2 separate regions of the Homo sapiens genome follow, and region 1 is linked to region 2. Evidence: fine-mapped expression QTL. Tissue or cell type: tibial nerve. Region 2 holds a variant in brackets; the other region holds the start of a gene. All regions are shown on one strand. Distances are from middle to middle.

Region 1 (6,060 bases), 72 kb before region 2:
GCCATCACTGCCATCCGACCACCCCCAGAGGACACCTCGCCCCTCTGCAGTCCCTGCTGCCAGCTCCCTGGCCCCGAAGATGCTGCCTTTGCTGGATGTCTCGGAATGGAGCCCGGCCTTTTGCATCCAGCTTCTCCCTTGCAGTGGGATGTTTAGTCCTGTGCCTGTGTCAGTTCTGCCTTCCTTCTCACCACGGAACAGCATTCCCACATTGTTTTCCAAAACCTGTGCTTTGTGGACCTAGAGCTCCGAAGCTTGAGTTCTAGAATGTTCTCAGCAGGCCTCTATCTATCTCATGATAGAGGATGGAAACCAGCCGTCCAGAAGAAGAGAGAGTTGGGCCGAGGAGGACTCCAGGGCTCAGCCATGAGGAGATCTGGGCGGTGGTCTCCTCTTCCTCGCGGCCTCTGCCCGTCCACTGCCCGGCCCTGACATCACGAACGTGGCAGGCCAGCCTCTTCCATCACGAACAGGCCAGTCGAGAAGACAAGACATTCAGAGGTGGGGTCAGTGTTGGGGCCCGGTCACGCCTCTGCCTTCTCAGGGTGCAAAGTTGTCTTCTTGATGAGCTGAGGACAGAGGTTCTGGTGTCCCCTCAGTGCCCTGGCGGGAGGTACTCATGGCGACCACCCTTGCCTTGGAGCCTCAGCACGTTTTCAGGAAAAAGCCGCGCTCTCCCAGGAATACAACGGGGGCTTCCCAAGCCCAGCTCTCCCTGGCACTCAGATGGACGGCGGCCTTCACTGGAGGTCTGAACCTCAACGGTGTGGCCCTGAGACTCTGGGTGGGAAGGAAGGAGCTGGGGCCAGGGACGTCCTGCTTTGACAAGAATCCATTTATTGTGTTTATCAATACAAATGTGGAGTTTCCATTCCTTTTCCTTTTCTTCTCACTAATGATGTTTGGAGCTCATTGGCCCACGGTCACCTGTACACACCAGCGCCCACACACACCAGCGCCCACACACACCAGCACCCGCACACACCAGCGCCCACACACACCAGCGCCCGCACAAACCAGCGCCCGCACACACCAGCACCTGCACACACGTGGGGAACCATCGCTTTGATCATTAGTGCACCCAGCACAACTCCCCACCGTGTCCCCGGCTCTCCCCACCGAGGGGTCCTGGTGCCTGTTGTCCCCTCTGTGCTGTGTGTGCCGGTGGTGTTCTGCCACCCCCCAACCCTGGCCCCTGCCTGCCCTCTGCCACTGTCCTGCGCCCAGGCATCCTGAGAGGTGCAGCTGCTGCCGCCCTTCCTGATACGCCGGCACTGTGACTCCAGGCAGCGGCTGAGGGCACCCGGCACAGGGACGAGCTGCTCAGGCGCCAGTGGCACAGGGCCATGAGGATCCAGCCTCTGCTCTCTGGGGCTGTTTTTTTTTGTGGTTTTTTTGCCATTTTTAAAACTTTTTGTGCTCTCAGCTAAAGGGATCCCCACATCTTCCATAGTGAACAGCTCTACGTTTGCTGTGGAGAGAAAAGAGACCGCCACTGCTGTCTTGGGCACACATGTGTGGCCTCGAGGGTCTGGGAAGGGTCTGGATCTGAGCGGAGGGAGGGAGGGAGGGAGCCAGTGTCAGTCCAGGGTCCGGGGGAGGTGAGGCCTAAGCCTCCTAAATCTTCTCAACCCACCGGGCCGGGCCTTAGGGCGGCTGGAGTGCGAATTTCCTAAACCCACCGGGCCAGGCCTTAAGGCGGCTGGAGTGCGAATTTCCTAAGATGAACAACGGCCCGTCCGGAGGTCCAGACCCCTTACTAGAGGAAGGTCCCAGAGCATCCCAGACTCCATGGCAGGAAACTGATGGAGCTCACGGCTGAGGACAGAATTCCACAGCCCAGGCCCGTGGGAACTGCCTCTCCTGACCTGCAGCGCCCAAAGGTCTGGGTGGTCCCAGGGCCAGGCAGGATCCTGGGGTCCCTTCCCCACCTAACACTGTGCCAAAGAGCTCGAAGGCGTTGCTCATCTCTGCTGAGCGGCCTCAGGGGTTCCAGGCCCTGCGGGAGATGTCCCCACCCCTCGTGCTGATGCACCCGGCTGCTGTCCACGCAAGCCAGGACCCCCTTCCTGGCCTTCCAGCTGCTGCAGGCAGGAAGGGATTTGCTGGCCCTGGACAAGGAAGGAAGTGTCCTCAGTTTCCAGCCCCTAAAGGGAGCCAGGGTCCCTCCTGGCAGAACCTGTCCAGGAACGGCAGCTGTGCTGCTTCCTGAGGTCGATAACAGATGCCACAGGAGGTGTGTGGGGCAGGGTGCCCACCCAGGCTGCCTTCCTCCCGCCCTCCTCGTCCTGCCCTGCTGCTGCTCCATCTTCCCCAGCAGCCCTGGCTCTGGCATCTGTGCCCATGGGGTTTGCATAGCCCTCTCCACATTATAGAAGAAGGAGCAGGCACCCTGAGGAGATAGGGGTTGTCAGGTGGAGGAGTTGGGTCCTGTCTCCCCCAGCCTGGTTCTCACGGGGCCCACACCGAGGCTGGCTGCTGAGCTACCCTGCATGGGAGTGCTGCATGGCGGGTGCCCAGCCTGAGGTTGTTTATTTGCATTCCTGGCGCCCTCCACACACCCAGCTATTTGCAGCTCTGACCCTTGTCCTGGCTTGGCCATGCTGGATTCCCAGCCCAGGCTTCCCTCTCAATTCCCTTCCCAGTGAGAAGCTCGGCAAGGGCGGGTCCCGGAAAGCACAGCTGTGATCTGGGAGGTGCTGAGCACCCACCTGCGACCCATGGCGGGGGAGGGCCGAGTAACGACAGCATGGCGGTGCCCCCGAGAGGGAGGGGCATAGACCCCGCCCGGACAAACCCTGACACGTTCCCTCCTTCAGGGGCGCGATGTATGGAACCCAGTCCTGAGAGGCCTGCATGCAGTCAGCAGGAGCCGACCCTGGGAATGGACGCGATGGCCTCGGAACACAGGGATGTCCTCGTGCTGCTGCCCAGCCGGGAGCAACTGCGGCTGGCCGTGGGGGTGAGCAGGGCCCTGGGTGGCCGTGGGGGTAAACAGAGCTGTGGGGGTGAGCAGGGCTCCGGGTGGCCGTGGGGGTGAGCAGGGCCCTGGGTGGCCGTGGGGGTGAGCAGGGCCCTGGATGGCCTTGGGAGTAAACAGAGCCATGGGGGTGAGGAGGGCCCTGGGTGGCCATAGGGGTGAGCAGGGCTGTGGGGGTGAGCAGAGCCATGGGGGTGAGCAGGGCCCTGGGTGGCCGTGGGGGTGAGCAAGGCTGTGGGGGTGAGCAGGGCCGTGAGGGTGAGCAGAGCCGTGGGGGTGAGCAGGGCTGTGAGGGTGAGCAGAGCCGTGGGGGTGAGCAGGGCCGTGGGGGTGAGCAGGGGTATGGGGTGAGCAGAGCCTCAGGACACAGCCTGTGTATGGAAAGTCCCTGGACCGCCTCACTCTGCTTAGGCCAGGTGTCTGTGAGGTGTCAAGGGCCAGCCCTTTCACTGGGCCTGTGAAGGAAACATCCCTGATAGACGTTGCTGTGAGAAATAAGTTTATGGTTCAGCACATCCTTCCCGGGAGGGAGCGCTGAGGGAAGAGCGCCAGGAAGCCGGTTTCCAAGGAGCAGCTCCTGTCTTGTGTTCAGACGTCACCATCTCTATGCTTCTCTATTTCCTTTTCTTTTCCCTTTCCCCCATTTTGTCTACCTGTTTTAGTTGAGTTCATGGCGACAGGAGTTGAGATGGTACTTTCATTTTAATGATTAATGTGGATAATGAAAATGTGGCAATTAAAATGAGAGTGGTTTGTTGAAGAACGATGACTTTCTGCATAGCTAATGTATCATTGCTACCTGGAATGGAGTATGACTTGCTAGTAATATCCTGGTTCAAGTCCCCTGGGAATCTGGGAGTCTCTTGTCTGCTTCGGGATAGAGTTCTGTGTTTACGTAAACGCCCACATCTATGTTTGTGGCAAAATCTTCCCCAAGACTCTGTGTCCCCACCCAGCAACGAGAAGCTGGAGTTGAGCTAATGGGGGATGTCCTGTAGTTTCCTGGGGTCCCCAGCAGTGCCTCGGGCTGGGGGAGGGGTCATAAGAGGACCTGTTGTGGGGAAGATGCTGGGGCTTTGGCCCCCTACCCCATAAGAGCTGGAACTTTTAGGTTTCTTGCACGGAACTTCACGGTAAGATTTTAACTGAGGGATCATGCAGCTAGAACATAGTGAACCGCCTGTTCTGAACAGGTGAATCGTGCTCATCTGCTTTTGACGGAGCTCCCTGAAGTGCCTCTGCAACTCCTGTGGCCCCTGCTGGGCCTGGCAAGTTGGCAACCACAGAGCCACTTCCTATCGGGGTGTGCGCACATCTGTGTCTGCAGTTGGACAGGAACCCCTCACTGGGTTGTGCAGTCATCTATGTCTGCAGTTAGACAGGAACCCCCCCACAGGGTGTGTGCACATCTGTGTCTGCAGTTGGACAGGAACCCCTCACTGGGTTGTGCAGTCATCTATGTCTGCAGTTAGACAGGAACCCCCCCACAGGGTGTGTGCACATCTGTGTCTGCAGTTGGACAGGAACCCCTCATTGGGGTTTGCAGTCGTCTATGTCTGCAGTTAGACAAGAACCCCCCCCCATCGGAGTGTGTGCACATCTGTGTCTGCAGTTGGACAGAAACCCCCTATTGAGGTGTGCACACATCTGTGTCTGCAGTAGGAGAGGAACCCTCTATCAGATGTGCATGCATCTGTGTCTGCAGTAGGAGAGGAACCCTCTGTTGGTGTGTGCACACATCTCTGTCTGCAGTAGGACAGCAACCCTCTGTTGGGGTGTGCATGCATCTGAGTCTGCAGTAGGAGAGGAACCCTCTGTTGGGGTGTGCATGCATCTGTGTCTGCAGTTGGACAGGAACCCTCTGTTGGGGTGTGCACGCATCCGTATCTACAGTTGGACAGGAACCCTCTATTGGGGTGTATACTCGTGTGTATCTGTAGTTAGACAGGGAACGCTCTATTGGAGTGTGTGCACACCTGTGTCTGCAGTTAGACAGGAACCCTGTATTCAACCAAATATGTGTCAAGCCCAGTTATTCGAAAGGGATGGGCTGGGAAGACCCTCACTGAAGATCTGTGTTACCGTCATTGTGGGGCCTGCCCCTCACCAAGTTAAGCAGACAATAATCATATTAGTCTGTTCTCACGCTGCTAATAAAGACATACCCAAGACTTGGTAATTTATAAAGGAAAGAGGTTTAATTGACTCACAGTTCCACATGGCTGGGGAGGCCTCAGGAAACTTACAGTCATGGCAGAAGGCACCTCTTCACAGGGTGGCAGGAGAGAGAATGAGTGCCCAGCGAAGGGGGAAGTGCCTTATAAAACCATCAGATCTCATGAGAACTCTCTCACTATCATGAGAACTGGATGGGGGAACCACCCCCGTGATTCAGTCACCTCCCACCGGCTCACTCTCACAGCACAGGAAGATTATGAGAACTACAATTCAAGATGCGATTTGGGTGGGGACACAGCCAAACCATATCAATAAGGAAGTCAGTCTTACAGTAACTCAGGATTAACTCAGGATTAGTAAGCTGGATACTCATTTGACTTGAAACATGCAAATGAAGAATCGCAAAATGGCCTCCTGCAGATCCAGCTGCCCCAGCTGTGCCCTGCTGTGAGGTTTCCTCTTGGAGCCCCAAGTGAGGGTCCTCGGGAGAGTCTGAGAGCAGAGCGCACGGCAACCGTCCTGCACCCTCCGTCACAGGCTTGGCGCCCTGCGATTCTGCCTGAGAACGCTGCCTCTGCTGCCCGGTGACCAGGGATGGGCCCCAGCGCTGCAACAGACAGGACTCAGGAAGAGCTCTGCAGGGGATGCCCGCCAATCCCATCCATGCCGGGGCTGAACAGGCGTGAAGTAGTGTCACATGCGAGACGCCGGAAATGCGGACACGGGACACCGGAAATGTGGACACCGGGCACCGGAAATGTGGACACCGGGCACCGGAAATGTGGACACGGGACGCCGGAAATGTGGACACCGGGCACCGGAAATGTGGACACGGGACGCCGGAAACAGGGACACGCACCAGACGCTGGGTGTTTAGAGGCTGCCGTGAGAGGCTCAGCTGT
Region 2 (7,177 bases):
ATAAAAGAAATTGACACAAGAAATACAGAAGATCAATGAAACAAAGTTAATTTTTAAAATAGACAAAGAAAATCAACAAACCATTAGCCAGACTAACAGAAAAAAGAAGGAAGACCCAAATAAAATCAGAAACAGAAAAAGAGATATCACAACGGCTACCACAAAAATACAAAGGATCATCCAGAACTACTATAAACAACCATATGCCAATAAATTCAAAAACCTAGAAGAAACAGATAAATTCCTGGATACATATAATCTACCAAGATTGAACAAAAAAGAAATTAAAAATCTGAACAGACCAATAACAAGTAATGAGACCAAGTCAGTAATAAAGTCTTCTAATGAAGAAAAGTCTAGGACCAGAAGGCTTCACTACTAAATTCGACCAAACCTTTAAAGAATAATTAATACGAATTCTTCTGAAACTATTGCAAAAAAAACTGAAGCAGGGGGAATTCTTGCTAACTCATTCTACAAGGCCAGCATAACCGGGATACCAAAACCAGACAATGACAAAACAATAACAAAAAACTATAGGCCAACATTCCTGATGAACATAGTTACAAAAATTCTCAGCAAAGTACTAGCAAACTGCATTGAACAGCACATCAAAAAGATAATACACCATGATGAAGTGGGATTTATCCCAAAATGTGAGGACAGTTCAAAATATGCAAATCACTAAACAAATTGGGTCACATCTACAGAATGAAGGACAAAAATCATGTGATCATCTCCAAAGATGCAGAAAAAGCTTTTCAAAATATTCAACATCCTTTCATGATAAAAAAAAACAACTCTTAATAAATTAGGTATAGAAAAAAACAACCTCAATATAATAAAGACAATATATAACAAACCCACAGCTAACATCCTAACATCTTTCAGCTTTTTCTTTAAGGACTGGAATAAGACAAGGATGCCAAGTCTCACCACTCTTATCAATATGGTATTGGAAGTCCTAGTCATAGCAATTAGGCAAAAGAAAGAAATAAAGAGCATCCAAATCATACAGAAGGAAGTCAAATTGTTCCTGCTTGAAGATAACATGATCTGATATATAGAAAATCCTAAAGACTCTACCAAAAATCTCTTAGAACTGATCGACAACTTCGGTAAAGTTGCAGGATACAAAATTAATATGAAAAAATCAGTATTGTTTCTATATATGAGCAATGAACTAAATGAAAAATAAATTTAAAAGGCACTCCCATTTATATACAATAGCTGCAAAAAATTTAAAATACCTAGGAATAAATTTAACCAAGGAGGTGAGAAACCTCTAAAAGGGTAATTAGAAAACACTAATGAAAGAAATTGAAGAGGATGCAAACAAATGGAAAGACATCTCATGCTCAAGAATTGGAAGAATTAAAATTGTTAAAATGACAATACAACCCAAAGCAATCTAGAGATTCAATGCAATCCTTATCAAAATACCAATGACATTTTTCACAGAAATTGAAAAAATTGTAAAATTTGTATGGAACCACAAAAGATTCCAAAAGGCCAAAGAAATGCTGAGAAAAAAGAACAAAGCTGGAGGAATCACACTACCTGCTCTCAAAATATATTACAAAGCTATAGTAACCAAAATAGCATGGTACTGGCATAGAAACAAACACATAGACCAGTGGAACAGAATAGAGAACCCAGAAATTAACCAACATATCTATAGTCAACTGATTTTTTAACAAAGATGTCAAGAACACTCATTGAGGAAAGGATGGTCTCTTCAATAAATGGTACTAGGAAAACTGGAAATCCATATACAGAAGAATGAAACTAGACCCCCACCTCTTACACTATACAGAAATCAACTCAAAATGGATCAAAGGCCTAAATGTGAGACACAAAGTGATTAAACTACTGGAAGAAAACACAGAGGAAATGCTTCAGGAAAAGGTTTTATGGGAATCTCTTTTGGCTTCAAGGAAGAAATTCTTTCATAAGGTAGGCCAAATCCATACAGTATTCCTTCATAAGGTAGGCCAAATCCATAAAGTAAACTAAAGAGAATGTTCTATTAAAGGAAAGAACAACAAATCCATGAAGTTCTCTCTCAGGCCATTTAAGATAAGAGTGATGCAGTAGGGCCTGTGGGCCCACAGAAATCCAAGCTATGACTGACCACAACAGGGAAATGTGATCTGAGAGACCAATAGATGCTTCTTTATCAACTAAGATGGATCCTAAGATTAAGGAAATAAAAGGTACCTATGAGTCAGAGGTTCAGGGCTTGGCTGCCTGACAGCTTCCTAAATTCCTGTGGCTACAAGAAAAACCACACTCTTGCTAAACTCCCTAACAACGGGAGCCATCAGGAAAATCCCTAACTCTGATTCACAACCCAGACCACCGCAACCCTGATTAGGCAGAGGATCAGCCTTGCACAATTCTTTCCTGAGAAGCAGCTGCAGACCTCCAGCTATTTTCGGCCAGCTTATACAGACTGTGCACAAACTGTGTGTCCTGGAGTTCACCTTTTAACAGAGAGAGCTGGAGACTGTCTCTTCTCAGTTTGCAAACTGATATCACTGATAAAATCCCCCTTTCTACTCTTTAGCCATCCTGGTAGTCATTACCATTGACTGTGGTAATCATTTTACTGATTGTATGGTTTTGTGTTTGTTTTTGTTTTTGTTTTGAGATGGAGTCTCATTCTTGTTGCCCAGGCTGGAGTGCAATGATTCAATCTCAGCTCACTGCAGCCTCTGCCTCCCGGATTCAAGCGATCTCCTACCTCAGCCTCCCAAGTAGCTGGGACTACAGGCGCCCACCACCACGCCCAGCTAATTTTTTGTATTTTTAGTAGAGACAGGGTTTCACCATGTTGGCCAGGCTGGTGTCGAACTCCTGGCCTCAGGTGATCCATCTGCCTTGGCCTCCCAAAGTGCTAGGATTACAAGTGTGAGCCACCATGCTCAGTTGTAAAACTGATTACCACATGTGTCATCCAAAGATGGATGGTAATCATATACATCTGTATATTAAATTATCATGTTGTAGATGTCGAATGTATACAATTTTTGTCGATTTTACCTAAATAAAGCTGAATCAATCAATCAATCAATAATACTTTAAAATAAAGAATTGTAAAAGTTTTTCTTTCTGGGGACATAGTAAGAGCAATTTTAAAGTATGGCTATAACAATTTTCTTGGCCTTTTTAAAAAGTATAAGGCTATCAGTCCGTTAACTAAAACTACCTTTTGAAAAAGAGTTTCTAAAGTTTACAATACGTAACCATCATCAGACTGATTCAGGTGACGGGCCTTGTAGAACCGCATATGGTAATCAACGTGACACAAAATCATCTTCAAAATGGCCATTGTGTCCTACATGACCTGAGATTTTCCTGAATTCAAAATTATCAATGTTAGTGAAGTGTTTAGCATTTCATGTGCTTTCTAAATTCATCTTGTGATCACCATAATAAGCTGAATGAAGGAGAGGCCCAGCATTTTTTTAACTGTTCTCACTGGGGACTTTGTAACGTACACAGAAATGGGGGAAACAGCACAAGACGTCCTCAGGTGCAATCGCCCGGTGCCACAAGTGTGGAATATCCGGCCAGTCTTGTTTCACAGACACTCCTGCAAAACCCACCTCCCTTTCCTCAGCATACTGTACATTCAAAACCAGACAACAGATCGTTGTATTGCTGAGTATTACAGGCTGCATTTTTAAATGATAAGAACACTTTTAAAGCACAATTTGCCCGGTGTGGTGGCTCACGCCTACAATCCTAGCACTTTGGGAGGCCAAAGCAGGAGGATCACATAAGCCAGGAGTTCAAGACTAGCCTGGGCAACATAGTGAGACCCCCCCATCGCTAAAAAAAAAAAAAAGAAATAGAATACAATCACCATGC[C/A]ATTCATCACACTTTACAAAATTAATGTCACATGGAGAGTGGCAGAACATGTCACCCCAAAATATGCCACTTTGGCATCAGGATTATCTTTACTTAAAGGTTCCTGAGAAGCAGGAGGCTCATGCAGAGCACTCCAGCTTCCCCTCTTCCTCCTGCACTGAAGGCAGGACCTGACCCTCCCATGAGAGCCGCCCTTGCTGGGCCAGGAACAAAGCATGTTCTCGTCAGTAGATGGGGTCTGTGATGGTTAATACCGAGCGTCAACTTGATCAGCGGATTAAAGGATACAAAGTATTGATCTTGGGTGTGGCTGTGAGGCTGTTGCCAAAGGAAATTAACATTGGAGTCAGTGGGGTGAGAAAGGCAGACCCGCCCTTAATCTGGGTGGGCACCGTCTAATCAGCCGCCAGCAAATATAAAGCAGGCAGAAAAATGTGAAGAGAGAGACTGGCCTAGCCTCCCAGCCTACATCCTTCTCCCGTGCTGGATGCTTCCTACCCTCGAACATCGGACTCCAAGTTCTTCAGCTTTGGATCTCGGACTGGCTCTCCTTGCTCCTCAGCGTGCAGATGGCTGTTGTGGGACCTTGTGATCGTGTGAGTTAATACCTAATAAACTCTCCTCTACATATGTATCTATTCCATTCGTTCTGTCCCTCTAGAGATCCCTGGCTAATACAGGGTCGAAGCTGAGCAGCTCTGCACAGACAGACCTGTTAGCACAGCCCTCGCCTTCCCTCTGTCTCCCATCTCATTTGGTTGCTTGTCCACAGTGGCCTCTGCCCAACCCCGCAGGGCAGCGTGCAGGCTGTGCCACTCCTCAACTCTTCATTTTCCGGGGGGCTCTGTGTCAGGTAGACCCCACATTCAACAAATCCGATGCTCTTCCCCGTCAACCTGCCTTAGGCCAATTCCATTCTCAGGCTCCACCAGGGACCCTAGGAGGATAGAGGAGAAGGTTTGCCCCCCTATATACCCAGGACACATTCGGACTTCCCCCACTGTCCCAACAATGCCTGTGACAGTCAGCTCGTGCATGCCAGGCTTGCCTGTGACAGTCGGCTCGTGCACGCCAAGCTCGCCTGTGACAGGTGGCTCGTGCACACCAGGCTCCAAACCAGGACACACTGAGGCTGACACGTCTCATTCTACTGTGTCCTCCTGCCTTTAAAAACAAAAGTTATTACTAGAGAAGCCAGGCAGTCTGTTCTGTGAAATGTCCGCATTCTGGCTTGGCAGATGGTTTTCTCTCCTTTAAAATGACTGTCCCCAAGACTTGATTAGATGCTGGTTTGATTTTGAAGCAAAAGTGCTTCATCAGTCCCACTGTGTCCCACCTGCTGCACCACCTCGGGACATCATGTCTCTGCATCCCAACTTCAGGGAAGCTGCGAGTGCTTAGAGGGTTTGAGGCAACCCTGAACCCTCGTCGTGAAGATCCTATCAACCCCTGAGCAGCGTCCACTCAGGAGAAAGTGCTTAGAGGGTTTGAGGCAACCCTGAACCCTCATCGTGACGATCCCATCAACCCCTGACCAGCATCCTCTGAGGGCCTAGAGTCACCATTTCATTGGGGGTTTCAAATGATGGTTTTCCAGTTTTATCATTTGTTGAGTTTATTACCTAGAATCTTCTGTTCCCTCAAAAACCATGCATCTGCCCTGAGTATGTTTCCTACAGGAAGGACATCACAACCCTTTTCTCTTTCTATCACTTTTTGGAATAATGAGTTGATGTTCTAGCACCCAAAAAATTAATGTGAGGTCTTTTTAAAAACTCATTATTATGAACTCAAGATTGTACATATAATTATATATTTCAATCTGCTTTAGTCCCTCCTTAATCCCCAGGCTTCTATCCCGCGTTGAGGGAGTGCCTGCCGTGGGCTCCATGTGCTGGGACAGCCCCCGTTCTGTTCTGAGGCCTCCCTTGCTGTTCAGCTCCCCAAGTGCCCCAGGCTCCTCCCACCCACTTCCTTTCCTGGCCCAGATGCGAGGTGTCAAATGAGCTTTTCTCCTGCAGTGGGCTTGGTACTCAGACACCCCTGGGGTGTTGGGCTGCTCCTTCTGACTTCTCGGCCTTTTCGTGGATAAAACTAAAAAGCAAGGAGGCTTTCAGGAGAAACAAAATCATGCTTGATTCCAGTTTAGAATCACAAAGTTCACCCATGATATCACTGATTTTATATTTATATCTCTTTTCCTGGTGCTCTAAATTTTAGAACTTGCTCATATTTGCACTGATTGATCATTTGGGCTGGAAAATAAATGGAAGTGAAGTAACTTCCTCACATAGAACTACGGGTCAGGAGCTGGTTTCCCACAAGGAAAGCATGTCAAATGCTTAATTTCATGTTCCAATAGAAATCAAGGAACAAAAACAACTCTTCTTAACTAAGAAAGCCTAAAATAAATTATTTTCTATTTATTCAGTCTCTGAGTTGCTCTCCATTGTAGGGATCTGTGGGGACTACGGACACCCACCAAGCAGGAAGCTGCTCTCTGAATACAATTTGTGAGGAAACTTGTAGACTCAGGTCATCAACAGCATGGGCCGCTTCTCTAGAGATGGAGCTGAGGGAATGAAACAACATTGAAAATACACATCATGAAGAAATTGCTTTCTGAATTCCTAACATTCAGCCTCTAAAACACCCTTGTGTTTCTTCGCCATCATCTCTGTCTCTGTCCTGGTCACTCTAAAACACCCCTCTGCTTCTCTGCCATCATCTCTGTCTCTGTCCTGGTCTCCCAGGACACTGGCTTGGCTCCTCTTCCTCCTCTTCCTGTGTGCATGGATCCACCCTTCCATCCTTTTCTAAAACTCCACTCGTCCTTTTGGACCTTATGCTTTTTATTTTTTTTACTCTTTACTTTTTATGTATTATTTTCTTCTCTTCCCCACCCCCTTTTGTCTTCTCTTGATTTTTTTACTCCAATACCCCTGTTCTTTATTTCTTGTTTTCATCTTCCCTGTCTGCATTGCATGGGAGAGTCATCCATACTCCAGTAAGAACGCTTAAATATCTCCTTCATGCGCAGTTTAGAGCGGTGGTGATACAGAACAAGGGTCCCAAATCCCTGGCCATGGAGGCCTGTTAGAAACCAGGCTGCACAGCAGGAGGTGAGCGGTGCGCAAGTGAGCAAAGCTTCTCTGAATTACAGCCGCTCCCTATCACTGGCATCACTGCCTGAGCTCCACCTCCTGTCAGACCAGCAGCAGCATTAGATTCTCTTGGGAGCACAAACCCTACTGTGAGCTGTGCATGTGAGGGATGCAGGTTGCACACTCCTTATGAGACT

The links. PIP is the estimated chance that this variant, and not a neighbour inherited with it, causes the effect.
Region 1: it holds the start of FRMD1, and the variant in region 2 is fine-mapped to the expression of FRMD1 in tibial nerve (GTEx, PIP 0.91).

Annotation. Positions count from the first base shown.
Region 1 is chr6:168,075,784-168,081,843 of GRCh38, reverse strand. It overlaps FRMD1 (FERM domain containing 1), which reads left to right and starts at 2,632. Exons shown (of 11, transcript NM_024919.6): 1 at 2,632-2,962. The coding sequence starts at 2,750. RefSeq lists an enhancer at 2,920-3,641.
Region 2 is chr6:168,002,885-168,010,061 of GRCh38, reverse strand. KIF25 (kinesin family member 25) reads right to left here. Exons shown (of 13, transcript NM_030615.4): 4 at 6,359-6,448. Among named protein-coding and RNA genes, the nearest start is that of KIF25, 8.8 kb to the right of the region's middle. RefSeq lists an enhancer at 1,739-2,938. The variant C/A (reference allele first, on the strand shown) is at 3,877.